3 separate regions of the Homo sapiens genome follow, and all the other regions are linked to region 1. Evidence: fine-mapped expression QTL. A gene starts in region 1. Each other region holds a variant in brackets. All regions are shown on one strand. Distances are between the middles of the regions.

What was found. PIP is the estimated chance that this variant, and not a neighbour inherited with it, causes the effect.
Region 2: its variant is fine-mapped to the expression of LDAF1 in whole blood (INTERVAL, PIP above 0.99).
Region 3: its variant is fine-mapped to the expression of LDAF1 in whole blood (INTERVAL, PIP 0.92).

What each region holds. Positions count from the first base shown.
Region 1 is chr16:21,154,951-21,165,637 of GRCh38, forward strand. LDAF1 (lipid droplet assembly factor 1) reads left to right here and starts at 3,724. Exons shown (of 5, transcript NM_001301771.2): 1 at 3,724-3,796; 2 at 6,135-6,328. The coding sequence starts at 6,233. It also overlaps a transcript of DNAH3 not described here. RefSeq lists silencers at 3,604-3,733, 3,784-3,963 and enhancers at 4,221-4,721, 4,856-5,005.
Region 2 is chr16:21,321,310-21,332,025 of GRCh38, forward strand. No RefSeq gene overlaps it. Among named protein-coding and RNA genes, the nearest start is that of CRYM, 48 kb to the left of the region's middle. The variant G/A (reference allele first, on the strand shown) is at 4,448.
Region 3 is chr16:21,369,259-21,379,974 of GRCh38, forward strand. It overlaps the pseudogene SNX29P1. Among named protein-coding and RNA genes, the nearest start is that of NPIPB3, 51 kb to the right of the region's middle. The variant G/T (reference allele first, on the strand shown) is at 4,468.

The DNA of each region.
Region 1 (10,687 bases):
CTTTTTTTTTTTTTTTTGAGATGGAATCTTGCTCTGTTGCCCAGGCTGGAGTGCAGTGGTATGATCTCGGCTCACTGTAACCTCCACCTCCTGGGTTCAAGTGATTCTCTTGCCTCAGCCTCCCCAGTAACTGGGATTACAGGCGTGTGCTAACACACCTGGCTTATTTTTGTATTTTTAGTAGAGATGGGGTTTTGCCATGTTGGCCAGCCTGGTCTCGAACCCCTGACCTCAAGTGATCTGCCCACCTCCGCCTCCCAAAGTGCTGGGATTCAGGCATGAGCCACCATGCCCGGCCTTGTTTCTCAATTGGGCTGCCAGACAAAACAGAAGGTGCCCAGTTAAATTAGAGTTTCAGTCAAACAATTTTTCAGGTAAAAGAATGTTTTAGGGCCGGGAGCAGTGGCTCATGCCTGTAATCCCAACACTTTGGAAGGCCGAGGCAGGCGGATCACAAAGTCAGGAGTTTGAGACCAGCCTGACCAACATGGTGAAACCCTGTCTCTACTAAAAATACAAAAATTAGCTGGGCGTGGCGGCACATGCCTGTAATCCCAGCTACTCCGGAGGCTTTGGCAGGAGAATCATTTGAACCCAGGAGGTGGAGGTTGCAGTAAGCCGAGATAGCGCCACTGCACTCCAGCCTGGGAGACAGAGCAAGACTCCGTCTCAAAAAAAAAAAAAAAAAAAAAAAGTTTTAGTATAAGCATGTCCCATTCAATACATGGGCTGTACTTGTACTTGTACTAAAAAGTTACCCATTATTTACCTGAAATTCAGATTTAATTGAGTGTCGTGTGTTTTTATTTGCCAAATCTGCCAACATGGGGAGCAGAGGTCAGCAAGGTTCCAAGTTGCCCCTGCCTCTTGTTATCAAGAGTTTAGGGTCTTAATCTGTTGCTAAAAAAATTTCACACATTTCTTATTCAGAGGCTGGTATTCCTGGCAGCTCATTCCTGAGGCCTAAAATAGTTGTTTAAGCAGAGCAACAGTTTCAATCCTTGGAGGCTACTATAGCAAAGTACCAAAGTCTGGGTGGCTTATAAACAAGAGACATTTATTTCTCACTGCTCTGAAGGCTGGAAGTTCACAATCAGGGTGCCAGGGTGGTCTGGTTCCAGTGAAGGCCCCCTTCCATGTTGCAGGCTGCCAACTTCTCATTGTATCCTCACATGGTGGAAAGAGGGTAAGAGAGCTCTCTGGGAGTTATTCTTATTTTATTTTATTTTATTTTATTTTATTTTATTTTATTTATTTTATTTTATTTTATTTTATTATTTTATTTTATTTTATTTTAATGAGCCAGGGTCTCACTTTGTTGCCCAGGCTAGAGTGCAGTGGTGCAATCTCAGCTCACTGCAGCCTCCACTGCCTGGGCTCAAGAGATCCTCCTGCCTCAGCCTCCCATGTAGCTGGGACTACAGGCATGTGCCACTATGCCCGGCTAACTTTTGTATTTTTAGTAGAGAAGAGGTTTCGCCATGTTGCCCAGGCTGGTCTCGAACTCCTAGACTCAAGCAATCCACCCACCTTGGCCTCCCAAAGTGGTGGGATTATAGGTGTGAGCCACTGGGATCTCTTTTATAAGGGCACTAATCCCATTTAGGAGGGCTTCACCTTCATGACCTAATCACCTCCCAAAAACCCCATGCCTAATCCCATCACATTGGGGGTTAGGATTTTAGAGGAACAGACATTCAGTCCATTGCAGCAAGTAATTGGGAAAGCATAGGAGAGGCTGCGCGTGGATTTTTTTAACCCAACCACTGCATGTTCCTTGAGGGCCAAGTCCTGATGCTATGGAGAGATGCTAGGATCCCAGCCCTGGAGGAACACATGATGTGATGGAGGAAGCATCTATCACACAAAGACAAGCAAAACTCTGCTGGCCCAGCCAAAAATGCCAGAGGTGGAAGGAATTTGAAGATTCACAGAGACGCCCCTAGATGGCACTCTTAAACAAAAATCCCAGTGGAAACCCTAACTCAGCTTTCCAAAGCAACTTCCATTTAGGGAATGATGATTGGAAGGCTGTAATCTAAGGAAACACACACACACACACACACACACACACAATCTTTTCCTGGGTGGGGAACCCAGCATTTTGCAGCTGAACAAAGTGCATGACGCCAGACAAGATTGGCTAAAACTTAAGAATTTAGGGATTCTTGTCTGTCCTATCCCCACCATTAGCTCTTCTTTCTGCTATTGTGGAATTACAGCAGGATTCTGTGGTTTATCATATCATTGTCGTGATCATCATCATAAATCATCATCCCAAGCAAATATTTTTGAGCCCCTACTCTGTGCCTCAATAGGTGCTAAGTTCTCGACAGCCACAGCCACACTATTGCACCAGTCCTCACTACAACCCTGTGATTGCTTCTTTTTTTTTTTTTTTTTTTTTGAGACAGGGTCTCACTCTGTTGCCCAGGCTGGAGTGCAGTGTCTTCACTGCAACTTCTACTTCCCAGGTTCAAGCGATACTTCTGCCTCAGCCTCCCGAGTAGCTGGGATTACAGGTGCGCACCACCATGCCTGGCTAGTTTTTATATTTTTAGTAGAGATGGGGTTTCACCATGTTGGCCAGGCTGGTCTGGAACTCCTGGCCTCAAGTGATCTGCCCACCTCAGCCTCCCAAAGTGCTGGGATTATAGGTGTGAGCCACCGCACCCTGCCAGCTTTTTGTTATCTAAAGACTTATTTTCCAGGTTGCTATGGCCACAGGCAAAGAGGAGAGGTCGGTCAACACAGGTCCCTGTCTGGAAAGTGGCTGAGAACTGTGCAACAGCAGACCAATGGTTGGGCTTATCCCTCTCTCTAATTTATGGTTGAAGCCATGGTTCAGAGAGGTTACTTAGTCACACAGTAAGTTGCCATCATGCTCTATAGCAGTGGTTCTCACCTCGGGACGATGGGGCCTTCCAGGGGACATTTGGCAATATTTTGAGACACAACTGGAGGTGGGGGGGGGCGGTTCTTGTAACTGGCATCTAATGGGTAGAGGCTAGGATATTGCTAAACATTCTACAATCCACAGCTCAGAAACAGAATTATTCCGCCCCAAATGTCAATAGCATACTATTCAGAAACCTTACTCTATAGGGCAGATTTGGGGCCAGGGGAAACAGGGGCTCCTGCTCCGACTTGGATCCATGCAAACCGAGGAATTTGGATTGATTTATCTTGTCTCTCTCAGCCTGGACTTTTTCATGTGTAAAATGGACATCCAATCCATCTGAAAGGATCTCACTGGCTTATGACATTCGCATTTGAGCAGTCATGGTTAAAAACTTCCAGCCAGGGTGATACTTCATCACGTGTGTGTCTTGAGCGCCAGAGACGTTCCAGAGCAGCTGGTTTTAGGCATACAGGAGGGGAAACCCTGACACCCTTGGAAAACTCATTCTCGGCTGCCAGTCTGCCTGTCTTGAAGGTGGTCTGAGCTTTCTCACTCCAAGCCAGTCGTGTGGGAAGGGACACTCTCTGAGCCTCAGTTTCCTCAGCTGTCAACCTCTCAGGGCTTGTTCTAGTGGCTCCGAAAGCCAGTGGGAGCGAGCGCGCTTTGCAAAGCCTTGGGCGCCGGGCCTTGGCGCGCCTTTGCCGGATCCTTCCGGCCACGGGCGGGGCGAGCCCAGAGGAGAAGAGCCGAGGGGCGGTGCCCGGGCCAGGGGGCGGAGGCAGGCGGCTCTGGCTCCCTCTCGGGACGCTCTTTCCTTCTTCCTCTTGTTCCTCCTCCTGCCTCTCTTCGCTTCGCCTGCAAACGCGGTGGGGGCTGCTCGGCGGTCAGGAGCAGGTGAGAGCTCGGAGCTTGGGGGTGGGGGTCCGGGTGCCCCGGGTGGCTAGACCCCTCTCGCCGGGCGGGGACAGAGGAGGAGCGCGGGGGCGACGGCGTGAGCGCGCTATCGGGGTCCCACGCCCGTAGCTTTCTGCCCCGGGGTTAGTGTAAGGGGCGTCTCCTGCTTATGAGTCGCCGGGACGGGGCTGGGAGCGCACGAGGAGACACGATTCCTCCCCACCCCTAAATGCACACTCACCCCGCCACCCCCCAACACACACACACATACACACACACACTACCACTAGATTAGGTAAAATGGTAGCTAGCACCACCACACCCCGAGACTGTGCCCCTTTCTGGGGAACCTGGGGAAGACGTCGAGGCAAACCTCCCTAGGATTATTGAAAACGGGCGCCTTCCTCACCACCCAGCCCCTCTTCTCCACCGAGGTCCCCTTCCCCATCGCTGCAGAGAGATCTGCAAGTATCAAAGGGGGCTTCTTTACCCCCAAATTAATAACTAAGTACTCGACTCCCCTCTGAGTTCCCATTATTCAGTCTCTGTGCCTTCTGGGACGCGGACCCCCTCTCCACCTGCATTTCACTCCCTTCCTCCTCTCCTTGGGTCTCCCTGGCTTTTGAACGCTGAAAGGCTGGGCCCGGATGGGGAGGGGCGGCCAGTGTGAGCTCGAGGCGCCCTGTAGCTCCCATCCCCCAACCAGAGATGTGACCCCTCCTCCCAGCTTGAACTTTCGAGGTAGCCGTTTTCCCCTGGAGGTTCGGGGGTGGGAGGGCCAGGAGATTTATTTGGAGCCTTGGAAGGGGAAAGGGTTAGCTGGTGTTGGCCTGGCCCAGTCCCCCAGGCGTGAAGAAGGCGGGGCACTCCTTGGCCGCGCCGGGTTCTCGCTTTCCCTTCTCGGGAGACAGCTCCGTGCCTGGGGAGGCCCCTCCGAGGAGTGAGTGACCAGGGGGTCTGGGAATTGGTGGCCAGGTAGACGCATTTGAAGGCTGTGGCCGATGGCATTCGCCCCACGCACTCTCTCATCGGACTCCCCAAACCGGTCTGGGTGGCACTTGAGGCTCCCAGGCCAAAGGAGACCTGTAAGGGGAACTCCGCTTGTTTCTGCTTGCTGCAGAGATGAGATTATGGGAACTGAGTGCTGGGAACATCCCAAGTTCAAGACCTACGCCAGAGGCAGCTTCAAAGAGAGAATGTGGGGTGGTGGGATTAGTCCCCTCCTCAACTTTCCCCTCCAAAGGGTTTCTTGTTTTACAAAAGGGAAGTAGCAGAGGATGTCTAGCTGGGATGATTAAAATGTGCTTTAATTTGCATACTAGACCCTGTACAGCTTAGTAGTAGATAAAATTACCCCCTATATGATAAATAAATGTGAGGATCTCTCAATTAATTTTGGCCACGTGGACACAATCTTTTAAGCATTTGTACTGTAGGTCAGGTCAGTTTAAAGGGAGAAATGGAAAAGATATCTCTGTGTCCAGCCAGTTCTGGGAAATATAAAATAAGAATGATTTTTTTTTTATATTTGAAAACTCAACAAGGGTTAAAAAATATATCTAATTTAACCAATTGCCTTTATTAAAAATAAGTAAAAATTGTATGAGATTGGGACACCCCTCAAAATTCCAGGCAGTTTAGTTAGAGTATAATTACTGTGGTGAGGTCTGCCCCCGAGGTGCAGTTCTCCTTAGCAGGGATAGACTTACCCACAAGTAAGTAGATGATGATGTATGGAATGATGGAATTGGGAGCCAACCTGTACAGTAATAAAGAAGAGAAACAGGTCAAGGCTACTGTTGTACAAGGAAAGCTTTCTAGGGAGAATAAAAGGCAATGAGATTTGAAATAGTGTGTTCAGCTTTCTTGCTTTCTGTATATTTTCAGCATTTTGTCAAGCTAAAAAATAAACATAAGCTGTCAGAGATAATACTATTAACATTTTATCATCTTTTTTTAAAAGTATCATACACATCTTTTCACATCACTAAACAGTCACACTATCATTTTAATGACTGAATTTATCATTATTTAACCAATTTTCTCCTAATGGAAATACAGTTAGCTACTTTCCAATGTTTTGCTAGTCATTATATGTTATAAACAGGGATGCAATGCACAGCCTTTTAGTACATTTTGAGATACCTGTTGGATTATTTCCATCATGTTCCTGGAATATAAATTCCTGGATTGAAGTGTGTGCAATCTGAAATTGTTGTGAATATTGCCAGGTTACCCTCCGTCTGCATGCCCACCATCAAGGTATGAGGATGGTAGAAGCTCTCGTCGAACCAGATGGATGAAGACCACTAACGGCTTTTGTTTCCTCTGGTAACAGCAAGAGACAGAGCGACATGAGAGATTGGACCGCGGGCTGCACTGGAGAATTTACTGGTAGGATAATTCATCCCTAAAGAGATTGAAGTGAGCTTCAGAATGGCAAAAGAGGAGCCCCAGAGTATCTCAAGGGACTTGCAGGAACTGCAGAAGAAGCTGTCTCTGCTGATAGACTCCTTCCAGAATAACTCAAAGGTCAGTTTCCAATCACTATGTATAATGGAAAATCCCAATATAACACTAGCATAAACAAGATAGAAAGTTATTTCTTTCTCCAGTAGAAGGAATTTGGAGGTAAGTCAAGAATCTTTCTGGCTTACCGCCCTGCCATGTCTATGCTGTGACCTTCAAACTCCTTGTCTGAGATGACTGCAAGAGCATCAGCCATTGTATCCATCTTTCAGGCAACAGGATTTGAGGAGGGGGGAAGAGAGAAGTGCAAGCCACCTACAATTTAAGGAGACTTCTGGGAGTCGCACACAATACTTCCAATTACATCCCTTAAGCCAACATTGAGTCATTTGCCACTAATGGCAAATGCAATTCTTTAGCTGGATAAAGAAGTCTGTGCAACAGATATCATCCTTTTTTTGGTTTTGTTTGGTTTTGTTGTGAATTTTGCCCTATCTGTTACCCTGAAAATGAGAGACAAAAGCCTACTTCAAGATTTGAGTTCATTGTTCCACTAGGAATCCAGGTCCGATAGAAATATGATGTGAGTCACGTATGTAATTTAGAATTTTTCTAGTAGCCACATGTAAGAAGTAAAAAGAAATAGGTAAAATTAATTTTGGCTGGGCATAGTGGCTCCCGCCTGTGATCCTAGCACTTTGGGAGGCTGAGGTGGGTGGATCACTTGAGATCAGAAGTTCGAGATCAGCCTGGCGAACATGGTAAAACCCCATCTCTACTAAAATTACCAAAATGAGCAGGTGTGGTGGTAAGGCCTGTAGTCCCAGCTACTCGGGAGGCTGAGGCAGGAGAATCACTTGAACCCAGGAGGCGGAGGTTGCAGTGAGCTGAGATTGTGCCACCGCACTCCAGCCTGGGCGACAGAGCGAGATTCCGTCTCCAAAAAAAAAAAATTATTTTTAATAATGTTTTTATTCAACCTAAGATATCAAAAATATTTCAACATGTAATCATTTATACAAAATTATTAATGAAAAAAGATTCTTGAAACATTGTACCTTCTTTTTTGAACTCCCTCTTCAAAACCCCCCGTGCGCATATTTTACACTTCTAGCACATTTCAATTCGAGTTAGCCACTTTTTAGGTATTCAGTGGCCACTCAGTGGCAATGAGACTTCAGATAGCGTTATGTTTTCTTGCATATTTATCCTTATTGCTTTCTTCTATATGTCTTTCAGCATTTTGTCAGGGAAAAGAAAACAGCTTTCAGAGATAATACTGTTAACATTTTGTATGTCATTCTAGACCTTTTTTCTATGCAATATACCTATAAAAATACATATGTATATGTAACAAAATGAACTATTTTGTGGTGTATTTTTTTTTGTATTGGATAGCACAGCGGGTCTACTCGAAGAGATGCTTGTTTGCAATCTACAACAATAAATTCTGGACTTGCTCCAGAATTTATTTGGCACTCTTTGTGGATTTACCAAGCTATTTTTAAATTGGACAAGCAGCTTTCTCGCCAGCTGGCGGGGACTCTTGTTATTAAAAGTTAGCTCAGTAAGAAGGGTCCTCCTGCCTGTTCCACATTTACAGCTGATTCTCATTAACCATGGTAGTTACGTTCTATAAAGTTACTGCAGACACTGAATTAGCACATACCAAACCATCGCTCCTAGGGGAAATACAGGATTCAGTTGCTGTGAGCCTCCTGTTCACAACATTTTTGTCAGCTGATCAGTACATAACCTCGTTTTATGTGTATTTCTGTTTAAAGACATGTTAATATATATTGTTGATCATTAACGTTGAACTCAGGGCCAACAACAGTACTATGACTCATGTCTTAAACAAAGCTAATCACACACATGTATTTTCTGCATAAGGCACATCACAGCCTTCTCATGGTTAGGAACGCTAGAGAACACTTCAGCACTACACTTGGGGACCATTTTCAACAGTAAAATCACCAAACTAAAGCATAAACGTGGCACTAAATAGACCACAGTGACACTTGTTTAAAGGATGAAACAGGAAGGCTCGGTGTCACCTTGCTTGACCTCAGCTGGGAATGTACGTGGCAGGTGACTCCACTTTTTGCTGTTGTGGACGTGTCCACTAATGACCTCAAAAGCACTGCAGGCCAGGCGTGGTAGCTCACACCTGTAATCCTAGTACTTTGGGAGGCCGAGGCGGGTGGATCCCTTGAGCCAGAAGTTCAAGACCAGCCTGGCCAACATGATGAAACCCCTTCTCTACGAAAAATACAAAAATTAGCTGGGTGTGGTGGTGTGCGCCTGTAATCCTAGCCTCTTGGGAGGCTGAGGCACGAGAATCGCTTGAACCCAGGAGGTGAAGGTTGAAGGGAGCCAAGATCACACCACTGTACTCCAGCCTGGGTGACAGAGCAAGACTCTATCTCAGACAAAACAAAACAAAACAAAAAGCACTGCCAGTATTCATTTTGAGGTTACAAATAAATTTCAGTGAGGAGGCAAATTTACAAATATGGAATCATGAGTAATAAGGATTGACTGCATATTTCTTGGCACTGACTGTATGCCAAGCACTGCACTAGGCATTCACCCTGGCCCTGTCTGAACTTAGTTAATAGTCACGTTCACCTGCCTTTTTTGTTTGTTTGTTTTTGTATTTTTAGTAGAGACGGGGTTTCTCACCATTTTGGCCACGCTGATCTCCAACTCCTGACCTCAGGCAATCCACCCACTTCGGCCTCCCAAAGTGCTGGGATTATAGGCGTGAGCCACCGCACCTGGCCACCAGTGGTTGTAAATGGTCCTGACCCTTCGTCTTTCTCCTGTTAGGAAGAGATAATGAATCATTGATTGTTTTTTGCATTCTGATACCAGGGAATTTGCCTGGCTCCTGAATCATCCAAGTTTCAGTCTTCATGTTCTCAAATACTGGCCACTTTGTCCCTAGTTTAGAAGCCAACCGCCTTTGTCTGACCTTGGGCAAGTCACTTAGGCTCACTGAATTTCCATCTCCTTTTTTAAAATTTTTTATTTATTTTTTATTGAGACAGAGTCTCACTCTGTCTTCCAGGCTGGAGTATAGTGGTGTGATCATGGCTTACTGTAGCCTCGAACTTCTGGTCTCAAGCAACACCTCCAGCCTCAGCCTCCTGAGTAGCTGGGACTACAGGTGCACACCAGCATACTCAGCTAATGTTTTATTTTATTTTTTGGAGAGACAGCATCTTTCACTGTGTTGCCCAGGCTGGTCTCAAACTCTTGGCCTCAAGCAGTCCTCCTGCCTTGGCCTCCTGAAGTGCTGGGATTACAGAAGTGAGCCACCATGCCCAGCTGCCATCTCCTCTTTTCTAAAATGAGCAATGTCAGGCTCAGAGGTTTGTTATGAAGATTATCTGAGATGCTGTTTGAAGCTTTAGCACAGAGGGTGGCGCATAATGTTGTCAGTCTGTCTCAGCCTGGCCTTCCTGGGCTCTGCAGTGCTGCACTGTGCTTACAGAGCCTAGATTGGGTAACCTGTGTCTACCTCCAGGCTGGTGATGGAAAATCACAGTGCATGTTACTGAATAATAACCTCTCCCACTTTCCATCTTTCCATTGCATCCCCCTCTGTTGCCATGAGAATGAAATGTTAATTGCTACGTTCTACCCCCCTGAGTTTAAATAGTGTTAGGTCGTTCTTTTTTACCTACCTCGTAGCATTGTAGGAAGAAATAAATGAGGAAATAATACGAGAGGTGCTTAAAGCAGTGCCCAGCACCTGAGTGTTTAATGAATGTTCTCTGTTATTATTAGGTGTGGTTGAATCGTGTCCTCCCCTCCTGGGACAGACTGGCTGGAGCTCAGCTGTACTTCCTGGGAGAAGACAATTTCTGGGTTTAATCATCTGAATCTTGGTCTCTTTGCATATCTAAATGACTTTCTCTTTGATTATAGAGCCCAGACTCGGAAAAGACTAAGAATGGCGGGGCATGGTGGCTGATGCTTATAATCCTAGCACTTCGGGAGGCCGAGGCGGGCAGATCACTTGAGGTCAGGAGTTCGAGACTAGCCTGGCCAACATGGTGAAACCCCATCTCTACTAAAAAATATAAATATTAGCTGGAAATCGCCTGAACCTGGGAAGCGGAAGTTGCAGTGAGCCGAGATCATGCCATTGCACTCTAGCCTGGGCAATAGAGTGAGATTCCATCTCAAAAAAACAAAAGGCTAAGAAAAAGGTGGATTCCTTAAGGACTGAAGTGGAACAGTCTTGCCTGTTTCCTTTTATATCCCTGTGCCATACAGTCCCTAAGTCCTGTGTATTCCTTCTTTTGTCATTCCACTTTCATACCCATCTACCCCTCCCCCTTCTCTTCCCTCTCTGCCATCAGCCTGGACTTGACCACAGTATATCTTGCCTGATTTCCTGCAAATCTTTCT
Region 2 (10,716 bases), 170 kb after region 1:
GCTCTAGGACAAACCAAAATAAACTATACTTCCTCACTTGGAAAATGAAAATAATAATAGTGTCTTATTTATAGGGTAGTTGTGTATATGTGAAGTATTTAGAGCAGTTCTCAGCACATGGTAAGTACTCAGTAAAGACTAGATTTATTGGCCAGCCGGGTGCAGTGGCTCATGCTTGTAATCCCAGCACTTTGGGAGGCTAAGGCGGGTGGATCATGAGGTCAGGAGATTGAGAGCAGCCTGTCCAACATGGTGAAACCCCGTCTCTACTATTAAAAACACAAAAATTAGCTGGGTGTGGTGGCGGGCACCTATAGTTCCAGCTACTCTATTACTGAGACCAGCCTGACCAACATGGGTAAACCCCATCTCTACTAAAAATACTAAATTAGCCAGACGTGGTGGTGCATGCCTGTAATCCCAGCTACTCAAGAGGCTGAGGCAGGAGAATCACTTGAACCTGGGAGGTGGAGGTTACAGTGAGCCGAGATCGTGCCACTGCGATCCAGACTGCGCGGCAGAATGAGACTCCATCAAAAAAAAAAAAAAAAAAAAAAAGACTGGATTTATTATTACTATAGGAAACACAACTTTCTGCTCTGCCACCATCTGTGCTGAGTATCACCATAAGGCCAGCCTGCCAGTGACTATTTGGAAAAGCTGTAGCATCTAGCAATACTTCCAACGTGTCTTCTGTTTCCCAAATAGTAATACAAAATATGAAACAAAATGAACAGTAGAGGAAACATTTTGAACAGGAAACCATGTCTATCTCCTCTGTAAACCTGTCCATTTGAAATGTGGATTACTGCATCTTGGATTCATTCAAGGCAATGGAAATAACCAAACTTTCTGCCTTCAACTACCTGGTCCAAGGAAATCAATCCTGTCTTTCCTCTCTAATCTTAATCTTCCCACCTGGATCTTGTGGTTTTAAGCCTGCCTAGTCATAAAGGCCAACTGCAAATATTTCAGCTTTATTGGAACTCAAGAGCATTCTGGGTTTGTTCTTTGTGATTCTTCCCTTTTATTTCACTTCCACCTAACTTTTAACCTTTTTTTTTTTTTTTTTTTTGAGATGGAGGAGTGTCACTCTGTCACCCAAGCTGGACTGCAGTGACCCAATCTCGGCTCACTTGGCAACCTCCACTTCCCGAGTTCAAGCAATTCTCCTGCCTCAGCCTCTTGAGTATCTGGGACTACAGGCACCTGCTACCACACCTGGCTATTTTTTTTGTATTTTTGTTAGAGATAGGGTTTCACTATGTTGGTCAGGTTGGTCTTGAACTCCTGACCTCAAATGATCCACCTGCCTCTGCCTCCCAAAGTGCTGGGAATACAGGCGTAAGCCCCTGCGCCTGGCCGCTTTTAACGTTTGATGTTATATTCCATTTCCAGCATCTAGCTCTTAAATTTTGATATTATGTTCTATTTCCAGCTGTGTCCTTTTTTTTTTTTTTTTTGAGACAGAGTTTCACTCTTGTTGCCCAGGCTGGAGTGCAATGGTGTGATCTCGGCTCACTGCAACCTCTGCCTCCCAGGTTCAAGTAATTCTCCTGCCTCAGCCTCTCGAGTAGCTGGGATTACAGGCATGCACCACCACATCCAGCTAATTTTGTATTTTTAGTAGAGATGGGGTTTATCCATGTTGGTCAGGCTGGTCTCAAACTCCTGATCTCAGGTGATCCACCCACCTCGGCCTCCCAAGGTGCTGGGATTACAGGCGTGAGCCACCGCGCCCAGCCTACCTTTTTTATTCTTAAGAGTGGACTTAGTTTTACCAACTTTGATGATTTGAATTCTCTGAGGCCCATGTCTCCTCCTGCTCCTGACCAGCTCTTGTAGGTTCCCCCCTGATTCCAGCCCCCAAGAAGCTACTTTCAGCTTTGAAATTTATGTGCCAGCTTTGCCTACCCCCTGAGAAAGGGAGATTAGATCAGGTGCTTTGCATCTGGTATTTTGCAGTTTTACCAAAAGTGATGATTATGACCCCTCAGCGTAATTTCATAGCCACCAACAATGTTCTTAGGTTTGGATAGCAATCCAAATATACTTTAAGCTACCATCAGATTAAACTGTCTTAAGAAAGTAGAATTAACTGTCATTATTTGTGGATTCTGAATTTGTGAATTCAACAACTCACTAAAATTTATGTGTAACTCAAAATCAGTAACTGTTTCACTTTTGAGGTCATTTGCAGACATGCAGGGAGTGGCAAAAAATTTTGAGTTCTCCAAGGGTGGTTCCCAGCCTTGGCCAGGTCAAAGAAGATGACACCCTGTCCACCTTGTTTCAACCCTCATACTGCAAACAAGTATTCTTGACTTGATATAGTTAGTGCCTTTTTTTTTTTTTTTTTGCATCTTTGTTCTTTATGTTGGTGATTTTGTTGTTTAATGTCAGCCCCAGGCATAGTGCTGAAGTACTGTCTCATGTTCCTAAGTGCAAAAGGGCTATGATTATGTCTTTTTTTTTTTTTTTTTTTTTTTTTTTTGAGACAGATTCTTACTCTGTTGCCCATGCTGGAGTGCAATGGCGTGATCTCGGCTCACTGCAACCTCCACCTCCCCCAGCTCAAGCCATTCTCCTGTCTCAGCCTCCTGAGTAGATGAAACTACAGGCACACACCACTGCACCCAGCTACAGTTTTATATTTTAGGAGAGATGGGGTTTCACCAAGTTGGCCAGGCTGGTCTAGAACTCCTGATCTCAAGGGATCTGCCCACCTTGGCCTCCCAAAGCGCTGGGATTACAGGCATGATCCACTGTGCCTGGCCCTGATTATGTCTTTTGGAGAAAATATCTATGTTAGAGAAGCTTAATTCAGGCATGAGTTATACTGCTGCTGGCTGTGAGGTCAGTGTTAGTGAATCAACAGTATGTATTAAATAAGGTGTCTTTAAACGGAAACACCCCAAAAAACAGGTCGTGTATTGATCAATTGATGAAAATGTGACCAGAGGCTTGCAGGAACCTAGGAGTATTTTCCCTAGGAGTAATCTTTCAGTATTCCCTAACTCAAGTGTCTGTGATGACTTTATAGAACATAACCAAGAATGATGAAAATGGATGGTGTCCAGGATGGGAACATAACATGTACAGCATCAGCACTTTCATATGAAAGTCTCCCAACAGCACAGGTGCAGCTGTACGTTCCACCAGTACACAGGGCACATTCAGTTCAAGAGCTGAGGTCGATACGGTGTAGACTCTGTAATTATATGGAAGCCTCCACTTTTGTTTGCCAGAATTTGTGCAAAGTCCTACTTACTTTCTTCTCAAGTCAAGTGTAGTCTCTAGACGAGATATATGGCAGCAAACAATGTTGATGATGAGTTCCAGGCACTGCTAACATTCTGTATTTTTAAACTCAGCACATACCTAGGCACAGTGCTGCCAGAGAGTAAACTCATAGTTATCTTAGTGGGTACACCTGGGTCCAGGAAAATAGGATTTATGTTTGCTATTTACCCTTTCCTCACAATAATAAATCTGCAGGTTTTTTTTTTTTTTTTTTTTTTTGAGACAGAGTTTTGCAGTTGTCGCCCAGGCTAGAGTGCAGTGGTGCGATCTTGGCTCACTGCAACCTCTGCCTCCCAGTTTCAAGGATTCTCCTGCCTCAGCCTCCCAAGTAGCTAGGATTACAAGCATGCACCACCACGCCCAGCTAATTTTTTGTATTTTTTAGTAGAGATGGGGTTTCACCATGTTGGCCAGGCTGGTCTTGAACTCCTGGCCTCAAGTGGTCCACCCGCCTCTGCATCCCAAAGTGCTGGGATTACAGGTATGAGCCACCACACCTGGCCAAAATCTGCAGTTTTATATCAAAATGTATCATCAGTGACAGTCCCTAAGGGCAATTGCATGTTTTTCTGACACCATAGTTGTATCACAATATATCACAACTGTTAGCATTATGGACTAGAAAAGCAGTACATTTACTGTTTTTTCAAAACTAATTGGACTATCCTTGATACCTACCATCCCCAGCCTGTTTGAGATGCAGTAAGGGGCTCAGGTTGGTGCCAAAATATTGGGCACACCCTCAGCCATGAGTTACCATGATTAGCGGCAAGCGCAGATGAAGCCTTGTCCTGGTGTGTGCCCTTGGGTTCTTTGAAGCTGATGAGTGATTTAGAACATTGGCAGCCAAGTATAAGCTGGTCATATGGAGTCACACATGAAGCTGAGAGATGTCTGATTCATCTCATCATGAAAGCTGTTACTCTTATCAAAATTTCATCAACTTTGGGGAATGATTATGTTGCTGACTAGAGATCAACATGGAAATCTGGGTATAAAAAGCAGTCAGGGAGGCTGGATCCTTTCTTTCAGTGGCTGCCTCAAATCCAGCAGGCCCTTGAATAATGTCATTTTGTCCAACGTCATTTTGTTATAATTTTGATGGGAAAAAAGAAATTGATTCCCAGCCCGGGCTGTTGTCAGT[G/A]TGGAGCTTGCATGTTCTCTCCGTATCTGTGTGGGTTTTCTCTGGGCATTCCAATTTTCTCCTGCATCCCAAAGATGTGCACTTTAGGGGAATTGACGTGTTGACATTGTCCCAGTCTAAGTGAGTGTGAGGTGTGCGTGACTGTGCCCCGTGATGGCATTCATCCAGTCTAGGGTTGGTTCTTGCCTTGTGCCCTAAGCTGCAGGGACAGGCTCTGGCCCCCTGCGACCCTGAACTGGAATAACTATCTAAATCATTATTTTACTTGTGTTTGTTAATCTGTCTTAAATGTATATATGGCTCACATTATTTATTTCAGTGTTTAATATTAGAAGTGTTTTGGTATTTATTTAGATGTTTGGTGATGTTTTTCTGACCCCCGAAAAAAGAAAACAGTAATATACAATAAAAACTTAACTCTTTTTTTTTTTTTAATTTTTTTCAGAGACAAGGTCTTGCTCTGCTACCCAGGCTGGGGTGCAGTGGTGCAATCATAGCTCACTGTAATCTCAAACTCCTGGGCTCAAGTGTTCCTCCCACCTGAAGCTCCCAAGTAACCGGGATGACAGATGTGGGCCACTACTCCTGGGCTAATTTTTTTTTAATTTTGTAGAAATAGAGTCTCACCATGTTGGTCAGGCTGGTCTCAAACTCCTGGCCTCAAGCAGTCCCCCTGCCTCAGCCTCCCAAGTTCTGGGATTACAGACATGAGCCACCATGCTGGCCCTTAACTCTTGTTTATATCAATTAGATTATGGCAAAGTTAGTTTCGTTATACATCATTTCACTTAAAGTTACAGTTTCCAAGAACCTATTGATGATGATAAGTGAGGGCTTACAGTACATGTCTTGGAGATAAATCATTGTGAATGCACAGTCACCTCTCAGGCTAAATAAATATTAACTCAGGAACACCAGAATCCAGGTCAGTTCCAGAATCTGACCTCATTCTTCCCTCTTCCCTTTGGATAAAGGTGTTTCTTTGTTTATGAGAACTATAGGAATGCCTCATTTTTATGCAAATATAAAGCAAGTGCCCAACCACCGCATTCACCTAAATGCAGATGTTTTGGAGGCTCAAAACTCAAGGGTCTCCACCCAGGATCCCTACATACAGAAAAGACACTTGTCCAGGATGGGGGCTAAATCTTTGGAGTTGAGTGTTATGTTTTTATTTTGCTTTGTTTTTCATAGTTTTTTGTGCAAAAAATGAGTGGAGCAAAGTAGCTGAGGGAACTGACTGTATGCTAGTCTTTTTGAGATTCAGAACTAGTGATACGTTGGAGTCCAGGTGACAAGTGTGGCAGGGAGTGGAAACCCTGTTGAGAGACGGGGACTTGAGAAGCATGGAATAGTACCTTTGGTGAGGATGTTGATGTTCTCTCAAGCTATTCCATCTACATTGGCAATGATGAGGCTCCCGATGGAAGCTTTTGAGAATCAGACTATTGGGGATTTGCTGCAGGAAGAGTTGTGACAATCAAGCCATTTAAATCTGAGTAATAAAACCGCATGATATTTCATTTTCCCCTGCAGGCTTTTGAAGCCTTTGATATCCTGTTTACATCAAACACATTTACTCCTAAGAAAATCTTTAGTGTATACAATTCCACATACAGATATTTTAAATGACTAACTACTTTGGCTTAGAAGAGTACAAATGACACCCCAGTCTTTTAAAATTTCAATTAGATTAAGTTTAATCTAGGCTAAATTCATTGATTGATCACCTCAAATATTGAAACATAATTGCCTCAAATATTGAAACAATAAAGTAGTATTGTTCCTTAATTTCTTAGTATTTTCTCTACTAGAGATTCTCTTATTGTAGGATTTTGAATGAATTTCATGGATGGTTTCTTTTCTTTTCTTTTGAGTGGAGTTTTGCTCTTGCTGCCCAGGCTGGAATGTAATGGCGAGATCTCGGCTCACTGCAACCTCCGCCTCCCGGGTTCAAGCAATTCTCCTGTCTCAGCCTCCTGAGTAGCTAGGATTACAGGTGCCCTCCACTATGCCTGGCTAATTTTCGGTATTTTTAGTAGAGACGGGGTTTCACCACGTTGGCCAGGCTGGTCTTAAACTATTGACCTCAGGTGATCTGCTTGCCTCAGCCTCCCAAAGTGCTGGGATTACAGGCGTGTATTACGGGAAGTCAGGGACCCCGAACGGAGGGACCGGTTGAAGCCATGGCAGAAGAACGTGGATTGTGAAGATTTCATGACATTTATTAGTTCCCCAAATTAATACTTTTATACTTTCTTAATGCCTGTCTTTACTGCAGTCTCTAAACATAAATTGTGAAGATTTCATGGACACTTATCACTTCCCCAATGAATACCCTTGTGATCTCTTATGCCTGTCTTTAATCTCTTAATCCTGTCATCTCGTAAGCTGAGGAGAATGTATGTCGCCTCAGGACCCTGTGATGATTTTGTTAACTGCACAAATTGTAGAGCATGTGTGTTTGAATAGTATGAAATCTGGGCGCCTTGAAAAAAGAACAGGATAACAGCAATGTTCAGGGAACAAGAGAGATAACCTTAAACTCTGACTGCTGGTGAGCTGGGCAGAACAGAACCATGTTTCTCTTCTTTCAAAAACAAATGGGAGAAATATCACTGAATTCTTTTTCTCAGCAAGGAACATCCCTGAGAAAGAGAATGCCTGAGGGTAGGCCTCTAAAATGGCCCCCTTGGGTGTGGCCATCTTTTATGGTCTAGCTGTAGGGATGAAATAAGCCCCAGTCTCCCATAGTGCTCCCAGGCTTATTAGGATGAGGAAATTCCTGCCTAATAAATTTTAGTCAGACCAATTGCTCTCAAACCATGTCTCCTGTTAAGATGTTATCAATGACAATGGTGCCCGAAACTTCATTAGCAATTTTAATTTCGCCCCAGTCCTGTGGTCCTGTGATCTCACCCTGCCTCCATTTGCCTTGTGATATTCTATTACCTTGTGAAGCACAAGATCTCTGTGACCCACACCCTATTCGTACACTCCCTCCCCTTTGAAAATCACTAATAAAATCTTCCTGGTTTTGCGGCTTGTGGGGCATCACAGAACCTACCGACATGTGATGTATCCCCCGGATGCCCAGCTTTAAAATTTCTCTCTTTTGTACTCTGTCCCTTTATTTCTCAACCTGGCCGACGCTTAGGGAAAATAGAAAAGAACCTACGTGACTACTGGGGGCAGGTTCCCCAATAGGCGTGAGCCACCTCGCCCAGGCAGATCTGTTTTTTATTTCCCTTTAAGATGGAACTTCCCTTTTTTTGAAAAAATTTTACTTTAAGTTCTAGGGTACATGTGCACAATGTGCAGGTTTGATACATAGGTATACACATGCTATGCTGGTTTGCTGTACCCATCAACTCGTCATTTACATTAGATATTTCTCCTAATGCTATCACTCCCCCAGCCTACACCCCACGACAGCCCCCGGTGTGTGATGTTCCCCACCCTGTGTCCAAGTGATCTCATTGTTCAGTTCCCAGCTATGAGTGAGAACATGCAGTGTTTGGTTTTCTGTCCTTGTGATAGTTTGCTGAGAATGATGCTTTCCAGCTTCATCCATGTCCCTGCAAAGGACATGAACTCATACTTTTTTATGGCTGCATAGTATTCCATGGTGTATATGTGCCATATTTTCTTAATCCAGTCTATCATTGATGGACATTTGGGTTGGTTCCAAGTCTTTGCTATTGTGAATAGTGCTGCAATTCACATACGTGTGTATGTGTCTTTATAGTAGCATGATTTATAAACCTTTGGGTATATATCCAGTAATGGGATTGCTGAATCAAATGGTATTTCTAGTTCTAGATCCTTCAGGAATCACCACACTGTCTTCCACAATGGTTGAGATAATTTACATTCCCACCAACAGTGTAAAAGCATTCCTATTTCTCCACATCCTCTCCAGCATCTGTTATTTCCTGACTTTTTAATGATCGCCATTCTAACTGGTGTGAGATGGTATCTCATTGTGGTTTTGATTTGCATTTCTCTGATGACCAGTGATGATGAGCATTTTTTCATGTGTCTATTGGCTGCATAGATGTCTTCTTTTGAGAAGCATCTGTTCATATCCTTTGCCCACTTTTTGATGGGGTTGTTTATTTTTTCTTATAAATTTTTTTGAGTTCTTTGTAGATTCTGGATATTAGCCCTTTGGCAGATAGGTAGGTTGCAAAACTTTTCTCCCATTCTGTAGGTTGCTTGTTCACTCTGATGGTAGTTTCTTTTGCTGTGCAGAAGCTCTTTAGTTTAATTAGATCCCATTTGTCTATTTTGGCTTTTGTTGCCATTGCTTTTGGTGTTTTAGTCATGAAGTCCCTGCCCATGCCTATGTCCTGAATGGTATTGCCTAAGTTTTCTTCTAGGGTTTTTATGGTTTTAGGTCTAACATTTAAGTCTTTAATCCATCTTGAATTAATTTTTGTATAAGGTGTAAGGAAAGGATCCAGTTTCAGCTTTCTACCTATGGCTAGCCAGTTTTCCCAGCACCATTTATTAAACAGGGAATCCTTTCCCCATTTCTTGTTTTTGTCAGGTTTGTCAAAGATCAGATGGTTGTAGATGTGTGGTGTTATTTCTGAGGCCTCTGTTCTGTTCCATTAGTCTACATATCTGTTTTGGTGCCAGTACCATGCTGTTTGGCTACTGCAGCCTTGTAGTATAGTTTGAAGTCAGGTAGCATGATGCATCCAGCTTTGTTCTTTTGGCTTAGGACTGTCTCGGCGATGCGGGCTCTTTTTTGGTTCTATATGAACTGTAAAGTAGTTTTTTCCAATTCTGTGATGAAAGTCATTGGTAGCTTGATGGGGATGGTGTTGAATCTATAAATTACCTTGAGCAGTATGACCATTTTCACGATATTGTTTCTTCCTATCCATGAGCATGGAATGTTCTTCCATTTGTTTGTGTCCTCTTTTATTTCATTGAGCAGTGGTTTGTAGTTCTCCTTGAAGAGGTCCTTCACATCCCTTGTAAGTTGGATTCCTAGGTATTTTATTCTCTTTGAAGCAATTGTGAATGGGAGTTCACTCATGATTTGGCTCTCTGTTTGTCAGTTATTGGTGTATAGGAATGCTTGTGATTTTTTCACATTGATTTTGTATCCTGAGACTTTGCTGAAGTTGCTTATCAGCTTAAGGAGATTTTGGGCTGAGACAATAGGGTTTTCTAAATACACAATCATGTCATCTGCAAACAGGGACAATTTGACTTCCTCTTTTCCTAATTGAATACCCTTTATTTCTTTCTCTTGCCTGATTACCCTGGCCAGAACTTCCAACCCTATGTTGAATAGGAGTGGTGAGAGAGGGCATCCTTGTCTTGTGCCCGTTTTCAAAGGGAATGCTTCCAGTTTTTGCCCATTCAGTATGATATTGGCTGTGGGTTTGTCATAAATAGCTCTTATTTTTTTGAGGTACGTTCCGTCAATACCTAGTTTATTGAGAGTTTTTAGCATGAAGTACTGTTGAATTTTGTCAAACGCCTTTTCTCCATCTACTGAGATAATCATGTGGTTTTTGTCACTGGTTCTCTTTATGTGATGGATTATGTATATTGGTTTGCATATGCTGAACCAGCCTTGCATCCCAGGGATAAAGCCAAACTGATTGTGCTGGATACGCTTTTTGATGTGCTGCTGGATTTGGTTTGCCAGTATTTTACTGAGGATTTTCGCATTGATGTTCATCAGGGATATTGGTCTAAAATTCTCTTTTTTTGTTGTGTCTCTGCCAGGCTTTGGTATCAGGATGATGCTGGCCTCATAAAATGAGTTAGGGAGGAGTCCCTCTTTTTCTGTTGATTGGAATAGTTTCAGAAGGAATGGTACCAGCTCCTCTTTGTACCTCTGGTAGAATTCGGCTGTGAATCCATCTGGTCCTGGACTTTTTTTGGTTGGTAAGCTATTAATTATTGCCTCAATTTCAGAGCCTGTTATTGGTCTATTTAGGGATTCAACTTCTTCCTGGTTTAGTCTTGGGAGGGTGTATGTGTGCAGGAATGTATCCATTTCTTCTAGATTTTCTAGTTTATTTGCATAGAGGTGTTTATAGTATTCTCTGATGGTAGTTTGTATTTCTGTGGGATTAGTGGTGATATCCCCTTTATCATTTTTTATTGTGTCTATTTGATTCTTCTCTCTTTTCTTCTTTATTAGTCTTGCTAGTGGTCTATCAATTTTGTTGATCTTTTCAAAAAACCAGCTCCTGGATTCATTGATTTTTTGAAAGGTTTTTTGTGTCTCTATCTCCTTC
Region 3 (10,716 bases), 210 kb after region 1:
AAGGCAGTCTTGTGGCTAGTTGGAAGATGGTAGAGTGACAGAGCTCAGCCCCTTGTTGGCACTCTGCTCTGCCAATCCATTTGTGCCTTGCAGTCAGGCTGGCTCAGTTTGGGATGTGACAGATTTAGGAGCACTTGTATTCACTGAGTTCTCAGGCTGGCACATGAGTGAACTTGGTTTACCTTTGTTCCTGGCATGGCTGATACCATGTGTGGCTGATTCTGTTAGAGTGTGCCCTCAGATTCATCCCTCTGTCTTCTTTGGCTTTGATAGAACCCAGATTTTGCTTGAGGCTGTGGTATGTACTCCTTTATCTCGGTGAGGGATTAAGCCAGTTTTGAGTTTTGTTCTTTGCTTTCTTTGCTCCCTTGTGATTTTCTGGGATTACTTGTTCTTTCCTGATAAAAGGGGCGATAAAGCTGGCTTCATCCCATTCCCTTTCTTCCTGCTCAATTGTAAATGAGATGCCCAAAGTTAGGACAGTCCTCTGTGACAGCGAGGTCAAAAGGTTGGAGGTTTTGGCCTGACATAGCCTTTGTATCACTGGCCTATTTCCAGACTAGCCCAGCTCCATGGGGTTGGATTTTCTTTGTGTGTGGGTTTTTTTGTTTTGTTTTGTTTTTAGAGACAGGGCCTTGCTCTGTTAACTAGGCTGGAGTGCAGTAGTGCAATCATAGCTCATTACAGCCTCAAACTCCTGGGGTCCAGCCATCCTCCTGCCTCTGCCTCCCAAGTAGCTGGGACTACAGGTGTGTGCTGCCACACTCGGCTCCTTGTAGTTGGGTTTTCTGTTTCCTTTTTTTAGAGATGGGTTCTTACTATGTTGCCCAGGCTGGTCTTGGGTTTTCTGTTTTTTTCTTTTTTTTTTTTTTTTGAGACAGAGTCTTGCTCCATTGCCCAGGCTGGAGTGCAGTGGCACCATCTCGGCTCACTGCCAGCTCCGCCTCCCGGATTCACACCATTCTCCTGCCTCTGCCTCCCAAGTAGCTGGGAGTACAGGCGCCCACCACCACACCTGGCTAATTTTTTGTATTTTTAGTAGAGATGGCGTTTCACCGTGTTAGCCAGGATGGTCTCGATTTCCTGACCTCGTGATCCACCTGCCTCAGCTTCCCAAAGTGCTGGGATTACAGGCGTGAGCCACCGTGCCCGGCGGGTTTTCTGTTTTTTTTGTTGTTGTTGAGCAATGCTTTGTTTTGGGGCAGTGTTGTCACATTGATGAGACACCCCTCACCCCCCATGGCTGTGGAGCACAGGTGTTGCTCAGCACTTGGTGTGTTCTTGGTCTTCTATAGATGATTGTCAGATGACTGAAGAACATGCCCTGTCTCACTGCATTATTTCCTGTGGTTGCAAATGATAGAAAATTCTTTAGATTGATTTAAGAAAAAAAAAGATGAAGGACATTTATTTATTGACTCAAGTATCTAAGAAATCATCTTGGAGTTGAGCTGGATTCAGGGGGCCTGCCCTTCTCCCAAATCTGTCTCCATCTGTCATCCCTCAGCACCGCTTCTCTGTGGTTGGGTGTCTTTCCAGGTGGGGGGTCTCTACATGATGGGGTGGAAAATGGCCCCAAGTAGCTCCAGGTTTCCAGGATGATGAGAGATCCTACTTCTAGGACGGGGTCGGCACACTCCCTCCTTATGGGTCATATTATAGGGTTTGTGAGCCATGCAATCTCCATCGCAGTGACTCAGCTCTGCCACTGGAGCAGAAACTCAGCCACAGACCATATGGGAGCAAATGGGTGTGGCTGCGTTCCAAGACCACTGTGCTTACAAAAACAGTTTGGAGGCCAAATTTGACCCCCAGGCCATTGTTTGCTGACCTCAGCTCCTGGAGGAGACAAGGCCTCTTTTCTGGTGGCTCTGGTAGAACTTGTGCGAAGGGACCCTGTGGTCCAGGGCTGAGACTGGGGTGAGGTTAGTGACACACTCACTTTGGCCACAAAATTGAAGGCGGTACCAAAAAACTTATCAATCAAGATAAATACTATTTTTATGTAATATTAAAAAAAAATGAAAGTTGCATATGCCATGGTTCCGGCCAGTTAATTGCCTGCCCTGGGTTAGCTGTCCACCCCTGCAGTAGGGGGAGGTTAGGATAGTGCTGAAGGATCCCAGTGGAATGTGTTTCCCATAGGAAAGAGGGGTGGTCTTACTAGAAGAAAGGGAAAGGGACCAGGCTCGGTGGCTTACGCCTATAATCCCAGTGCTTTGGGAGGCCGATGCTGGATGATCATTTGATTCTAGGAGTTCAAGACCAGCTTGAGTAACATAGTAAGACCCTTGTCTCTACAGAAAAAAATAAATTAGCCGTGTATGGTGGTGTACACCTGTAGTCCCAGCTACTCATGAGCCTGAGATGGGAAGATCGCTTGAGCCCAGGAGTTCAAGACTGCAGTGAACTATGATCGTGCCACTGTGCTCTAGCCTGGGCGACAGAGTGAGACCTTGTCCGCACCCCACCCCTCAAAAACAAAACAAAACAAAACAAAACCCCAAACAAGGAAAAGGAATGCTGTTTGGTGCACGTGTAGTAGTGATATTAATAGTTGGTTTTCGTTGAGCACCAATTATATGCCAGGTATGTTAATAACTATGGCTAACATTTATTCACTGCATTTATTGGATACACTTTACATGTATTCCTTTTTCTCATTTTTCCCTCATAGCAATCCATACACATAGGTACTGTTCTCCCCACTGTACAGATGAAGAAAGTAGAGGACAAAATAAGTTTCCCAAGGTCACACAGTGCCTGAACTAGAATTTGGGACAAGGTTTTTGTCTTCCTTGTGGTCCCCAAGGAATGAATTCTTGGGCATCGGTGATAGTTAAGTCTTGATAGAAACTTTCCCAAAAGCCTGGTGCTGTTAGTCATCCTCTGTTAATAGGTGTCCCGGGGCAGCTCTTCTCAACACCCCTTCCTGGCACTTGTTCTTGTTGGCATTCGGCTTTCAGGTGTTTGGAGAACCAGAAGCCCTTGCCCGCTTTTTGACTTAACCCCATGTTTCAAAGCAGATCAGTGTATATCCCTAAATTAAATTACGGACACCGCAGGCGCTAATTGGCAGGTGAGCTGCCCTTTAAATAGACCACATTAACTCTGGCAGTGGAAGCGGAACCCTGCTGGGATAATTCTTATCATCAGCAGCATCACCCTGACAAGCTTTAAAAGGATTCTGTAGCAGTAAGCAATTTTGCAGAATTGAAAGGTGAAAACACACTTTAAAGCGTTCATGTAGATTCAAGGTCGGAGGGAGGTGACTGCATTTTTCAAGACAGGCTGCAAGTGAGAGTCACTTGACTGGAAATGTGATGGACGTACCGACAATGGTCTGGGGTATTTTGAAATACGTTGTTGGCCGGCTGGCCCAGGGCGTTGTTGTCGCCAGATTCCCCGTCCTGGTTTCTGAGTGAGGCGGAGAGTGGAAGGAAGGCTGTTTTGTACAGTTGTGTGGATTAGACTGATCGGATGAGCTTGGGAAGTGGATTAGTTTGACATTTAGGGATTGAGACAGAAGACAGTCTTGAGGGACCTGCCCTCTTGCTGGTTTTTGTTATTCCTGGGAAGTTTATCCTAAATGATCCCAGTGATTGTCTTGATCCACAAATACTTATGCACGCTCATACGGATGTATACATTTAGATGCTGCTAACACAAAAAGGAACCCACGCGAATGCCCTCTGCTATGAAGAGAATTAATTATTAAGCAAATGCTGATTGGTCATCATGGACTGGGCACTGTGCTCGGTGCTTTCCTTCCCTTTCTAGTTACCCCAGTAACCCTGGGCGATTCTGCACTTTTGTGTTGATTTTATGGGAGAGGATTTTCAGGCTTAGCATGGTTGAGTGACTTGCTCAAGGTCATTTGGTTGAATGGACTTTTTCTCTGTTGTCCTGCCTGCTAGACTGGAAGCCCCTTAGGGACGAGTTCTTGTTGTCTCTAGCTGGTGACACATAGCCTAGCTTGGTTCACAGCTCCCAGGAAGAATGCAGTGGATCCTAGTGAAGTTGAATTGAAACATTAGAGTGAACTTAACTAGCCTGCCATGCAGTTTCTGGAGATGGGTGTACTTGCCTCCTTCTGGAAGGCAGGTTCAAAGCCTTTGTCACATTTCAGAGGGGACTGTGAGCCTGTTTAGCTCCTAGATTGGAAGCCAGGTCCGACTGCAAAGACTCAGCTTCCCCCACTTGGAATATTAAACAGTTGTGAACGTGATCATTTTGAAGAGGGCCAAGTCCCCTCATTTTGCAGGGCAGTGTGATTTAGTGGTTTGCAGTGAGCTCTGGGGTCCCTTTCTGCCATACTGTTTACTAACTGTGTTGCTGGGCGAGTCACTTCACTTGTCCTGGCTTCAGACCTTGTCTTTCACATGGAGATGGCCTTGGTTGTGATGATGTCAGATGTAAAGTGTTTACTGCAATGGCTGGTGCATAGTTAATGCTCAGTAAATAGTA[G/T]TTGCTGTTGCTGCTGTTATTATTATTGCCAGCATGAAAAAATGTTAAAGAGCCAATGTTAAGTGAAGAAAATTGATCACAAAATTATGTATACACTAGCATTACAACTATGAAAATATCTGGGGTTGGGCAAGGTGGCTCCTGACTGTAATCCTAGCATTTTGGGAATCTCAGGCAAGAGGATCGCTTGAAGCCAGGAGTTTGGTACCAGCCTGCACAACATAGCAGAATCTCATCTCTACAAATAAATAAAAATTAAAAAATTAGCTGGGCATGGGGGTGCGTGCCTGTGTCTCAGCTACATGGGAGGCCGAGACAGGAGGATCACTTGAGCCCAGGACGTTGAGGCTGCAGTGAGCTCCAGCCTGGGTGACAGAGGGAGAGGCCCTGTCTCAAAAATAAATAAATAATAATTAACTTAAAATGTATATAAAAAATTTTAAAAATCTGTGTACATGTGGATAAAAAGTGGTGGGATGTGAGGAGATACAAGTAGTTGTAGGAATGACCGTCTTATGGATAAAAACAAACTTTCTTAGGTTTCCCATAACGCCTTAAATCTGTTCCTATCCTCAGACTGAGTAATTTGACATGTGGAAATCTTTCCTAAGGAACTAGGAATGAGGACAATTATTTATGTATAGGGGTGTTCTTTACTGTACAGAGGGAAAGTTGGCCATGTGCCATGCCCTTAGCAGTATGGAAATAGTTGTTTTACTGGAAAGCCATCAAAAATCATCTTTGAAAGACTTTTAATTGTAATAGGAAAATGTTCATGCTCTAGACAAGAAAATAAATGAATCAGGATACAAAATTACACATACAAATATGTATGCGTATACACTCATACAATATGATGTGGTTTTATTTATTTATTTTTTGAGACAGAGTGGAGTATAGGGGCATGATCTTGGCTCTCTGCAACCTCCGCCTCCTGGGTTCAAGTGATTCTCCTGCCTCAGCCTCCCAAGTAGCTGGGACTACAGGCGTGTGCCACCATGCCCAGCTAATTTTTGTATTTTTAGTGGAGACATGGTTTCACCATTTTGTCCAGGATGGTCTCGATCTCTTGACCTCGTGATCTGCCTGCCTTGGCCTCCCGAAGTGCTGGGATTACAGGCGTGAGCTACCGCGCCAGCCTGTTTTTTTTTTTTGAGACAGAGTCTTGCTCTGTCGACCAGGCTGGAGTACAGTGGTGCGATCTCGGCTCACTGCAACCTCTGCCTCCTGGGTTCAAGTGATTCTCCTGCCTCAGCCTCCTGTGTAGCTGGGATTACAGGCACCTGCCACCATGCCTGGCTCATTATTGTATTTTTAGTAGAGATGGGGTTTCACCATGTTGGCCAGGCTGGTCTCGAGCCCCTGACCTCAGATGATCCGCTCGCATCGGCCTCCTGGAGTGCTGGGATTACAGACATGAGCCACTGTGCCTGGCCTGATGTGTTCTTTTCTTCTGGCTGCTGTAACAAAGTAATACACAGTTGGTGGCTTTTAAACACTATAATTTATTCTCCCACAGTTCTGGAGGCCAGAAGTCCCCAATCCATTTCACTGGGCTAAAGTCAAGGTGACAGCAGGGCTGCTTCCTTCCAGAGGCTTCAGGGCCGAATCCGTTTCTGGCCCTTCCAGAGTCTGCTCGCTGCCCACCTTCCTTGGCTATGGCTGCCCCATTCTAGTCTTTGCTTCTCTGGCCACATCATGTCCTCCTCTTCTGTGTCAAGTTTCTCTCTGCCTGCCTCTTATGAAGATCTTGTGATTACATCAGCCTCACAGGGATTATGCAAGATAACCTCCCAGTTTCCAGATCCTAACACAGTTGCACAGACTCTTTTACTATATAAGGTAATATTCAGAGAATTCTGGAGCTTATGACGTCGATATCTTTGAGGATTATAATTCAGCCTACAGCAAATGTTGATTTTTTTTATAAAAAAGAAAAGTGCAGTAAAAAAGACTGAAAATTCTTGAAAATGTCAATATTGGTCTTTTCTGGATGAGAGGTTTTAGAGTCATTTTTATTTTTGATATACTCTTCTGTATCTCCCACCTTTTTTTCTTATTTCATTATTGTTTTTGAGGCTGAGTCTTGTTCTGTCACCAGGCCAGAGTGCAGTGGTGCAATCTCAGCTCACTGCAACCTCCGTCTCCTGGTTTTAAGTGATTCTCCTGCCTCAGCCTGCCCGGTAGGTGGGATTACAGGTGTGCGCCACCATGCCCAGCTAATTTTTGCATTTTTAGTAGAGATGGGGTTTTACTGTGTTGGCCAGGCTGGTCTTGAACTCCGAGCCTCAAGTGATCCACCACATCAGCCTCCCAAGTACTGCGATTACAGGCATGAGCCACCGTTCCCAGCCTCAATTTTTATTTTAGATTCAGGGTGTACATGTGCAGGTTTGTTACCTGGGTACATTGTGTGATGCCGAGGTTCAGGGCACGATTGAACCCATCTCCCAGGTAGTGAACATAGTACCTGGTAGGTAGTTTTTCCGTCCGTGCTCTCCTCCCTCTCTACTCTCTCTAGCAGCCCCCAGTGTCTGTTGTTTGCCATCTTTATGTCTGTGTGTACCCAGTGTTAAGCTTCCATTTATAAGTGAGACTATCCACTATTTCGTTTTCTATTTCTGTGTGATTCGCTTAGGATAATGGCCTCCAGTCATCCATGTTGCTGCATAGGACACAATTTTGTTCTTTTTCATGGCTGCATAGTATTCCTTTGTGTAAATGTACCACATTTTGTTTATCTAGTCCACTATTGATGAGTATCTGGGTTGATACCATGTCTTTGGTGTTATCTCCTACCTTTTCCATGCTAAGGGGATACTCTGTTACAATCTCCAACATTGCCTAGAGGCTTTGTGTGTTCCTCTCCCAGTGCTGAGTGCCCCAGGCCGAGTGCCAGGCGCCTGCACCCTCTCTCCGTAGAGCCCGTGTTCTGGTACTACGTGAAGGAGGTCCTCAACAAGCACGAGCTGCAAGCGCTTCTACTCCCTGCGCCACATCGCCTCAGACGTGGGCTGGGGCCGCGCCTGGCTGCGCTGTGCCCTCAACGAACACTCCCTGGAGTGCTACCTGCACATGCTCCTGGCCGACCGCTGCAGGCTCAGGTACGTGGCCGGGATGGGACCTGGAATGGGATGGAGCAAGGGGTGAAGATCTTGGAGTCTGTAGTCAGACCACCTGGATTTTCATCCTAGTTCCCCGATCTGGGGCAAGTGGGCCTCCCTCTGACAGCTCCGGAGTGTTCTGCTGAGCTGTGGAGAAACTTGGGGGAGAATCATTGAGAGACTGCCTGTAACGGGCTCGGCATGGCACTTGCATACAGCCAGCTTGGATGTGGAGAGAGCTGTTGTCCTAGGACATAGCTTCCTCTTCACTTTCTGGATTTTTTTTTTTTTTTTTTTTTTTTTAAAGACAGGGTCTTGCTTTGTTTCCCAAGTTGGAGTGCAGTGGCATGAACACGGGTCACTGTAGCCTGGACCTCCCTGGCTCAAGCAATCCTCCCACCTCAGCCTCCTGAGCAGCTAGGACCCTAAGTGTATGCCACCCTGCCTGGCTAATTTAAAAAATTGTTTTGTAGCGATGGGGTCTCAGTGTGTTGCCCAGGCTGGCCTCGAACTCCTAGGTTCAAGTAATCTTCCCGCCTCAGCCTCCCAAAGTGCTGGGATTACAGGTATGAGCTACCATGACAGGTGCAGAATTTTAATTTGGGATTCTTGCATTCATTCAATCCCAAACTGAAAAACACATGGAAATTTTACATTGGGGAAGGAAGTCATTTTTGTTTGTTTGTTTGTTTTTGAGACGGAGCCTCACTCTGTTGCCCAGGCTGGAGTGCACTGCTGCTATCTGGGCTCACTGCAACCTCCATCTCCCCAGTTCGAGTGATTCTCCTGCCTCAGCCTCCTGAGTAGCTGGGATTACAGGCGTGTACCACCATACCCAGCTGATTTTTTGTATTTTTAGTGCGTACGGGGTTTAATCATGTTGGCCAGGCTGGTCTCGAACTCCAGACCTCAGGTGATCCGCCTAGGCCTCCCAAAGTGCTGGGGTTACAGGCGTGAGCTACTGTGCCTGGCCGTGGCCATTACTTTTGCTCTGAGAATGGTGGACTAGACAAGTTGTTTTGTGTCCTTGAGTGATACGGAGTGACCCTGATGAATCCTGTTCTGGTTCCTTAAGTAACTTCCTGATCAGCACCGCCCAGATCTTCAACAGTGAAATTTCACTGAATTCAATAAGTGGGCAGTTTGTGAGTAGTGTGGCATGTTCCCTTGATTTTATATCTTGCCCTGTGTTCCCTAGTTTAGGTCTCCTCTTCTGCTTTATCTACTGCTGTGGTCACCTCTCTACTGGTAATGTCTCAGATCTTCTGGGATTGTGCACTGGGGCTCTTAAAAATACCCTTAAAGTTCTCTGTTGCCTGTGGCTCCTTGTTCAATTGTATGGCAAGACTCTATGTGTCCAAAATGGGAGGGCTTGGGAGCCAGGAGGACTGACACTGACGACACCTGTGTACTGCTCACGGTCGGAGTTCGGAGGCTGAGAATGTCTGGACCTCTAGGGCATTAACCAGCTTTAGTTAAGGAAAACACACTCCTGTTTCTTTCTTTCCTTTTTTTGGAGAAGAAGTCTCGCTTTTTTGCCTAGACTGGAGTGTAGTGGTGCGATCTTGGCTCACTGTAACCTCTGCCTCCTGGGTTCAAGCGATACTCCTTGCCTCAGCCTCCCTAGTAGCTGGGTCTACCAGTGCCCGCCACCATGCCTGGTTAATTTTTGGTATTTTTAGTAGAGACGGGGTTTCACCATGTTAGCCAGGATGGTCTCAATCTCCTGACCTCGTGATCCTCCCACCTCGGCCTCCCAAAGTGCTGGGATTACAGGTGTGAGCTACTGTGTCTGACCTACTCCTTTTTTTTGAAGTGAGTTTCTGTGAAGCTCCTTCCAGCATATCATTTACGGGTAGTTCAGAGTTACATACTCAGTCTCAAAGTTGAAGTGACCAACAAGGAGAAGTCAGTCCAGCAGGTAAGAATCACAGTTGACTTTACCTGGATCACCAGCCACTTCCCTAGCTGGATGTTGGGAAAACACATTCATTTAGATGCGTGAAAACGGGCTCAGATTTTTAAAGGATTATGATTTTAGGAATCAGGTGCAGTCAGAATGTCAGCTTGAGCATGTGGTTTGTACGTCTACTAACATTTTCTGGGAAAGTATATTGGAAATGCTCCTCTTCTTTCTTTCTGTCAGTTGTATTCAGTCACTTCAGTGGCTAATTTTTCCAGTCTCTCACCCAACTACAGGTCATGTATCCCTGACTTTGCTTTAGTGAAATTGACTTTTTCCTTGATTAATTTAGAATTCAATGACCTGGCGGGGAAGTTATGGCACTGGGGATTTTTGGTTTCCATTGCTTAACAGGAAGTCAGAGAGAGCTTGGAAGCTGGACTCGGGAGACCTGCTTTTAAGCCCTGGCTGGACCATTTATTGGCTAGATGACCTTGGACAGGCCCTGTAGGCTTCCTTGACACCCCTACCCCAACTGCCATCTAGATTTGTGGGGCATTTTTAGCCTCCTAGCCTTTTCCAAGGATAATGTGGGCTTTCAGGCCTGTAACCTAGGCAGGCATTATATTATTATTATTATTATTATTATTATTATTATTATTATTATTATTATTATTTTGAGGTGGAGTCTCGCTCTTTCGCCCAAGCTGGAGTACAGTGGCGCAATCTCTGCTTACCAAGCCTCTGGGTTCAAGCGACTCTCCTGCCTCAGCCTCCCGAGTAGCTGGGATTACAAGCACCTGCCACCATGCCCAGCTAATTTTTTATATTTTTAGTAGAGATGGGGTTTCACTGTGTTGGCCAGGCTGGTCTTGAACTCCTGACCTCTAGTGATCCTCCCACCCTGGCCTCCCAAAGTGCTGGGATTACAGGTGTGAGCCACCGTGCCTGGCCAAGGCAGGCATTATATTAAATGCCCTGGTTGATGAAGCCATAGAGGCTCTGTAATTTCTGTCTGAAATGGTCTCTTCTTGTATTAGGCAAATCAGGCGAGCCCTGTTGGCAGGCTTGGATTTCCTGTCTGTCTCTTGGGGACATTGCTTGAGTGGAAGTCACCCACCTGACTGCTCCGTTCCACTTTGCTGCTTTATAAATACATTTACATATCATGTCTATTTTAGTACTCTAAAGCTGAGGGTCGGGGGGGACCAGCGAGGAAGTTGTAGGATGTATGTGTTCAAT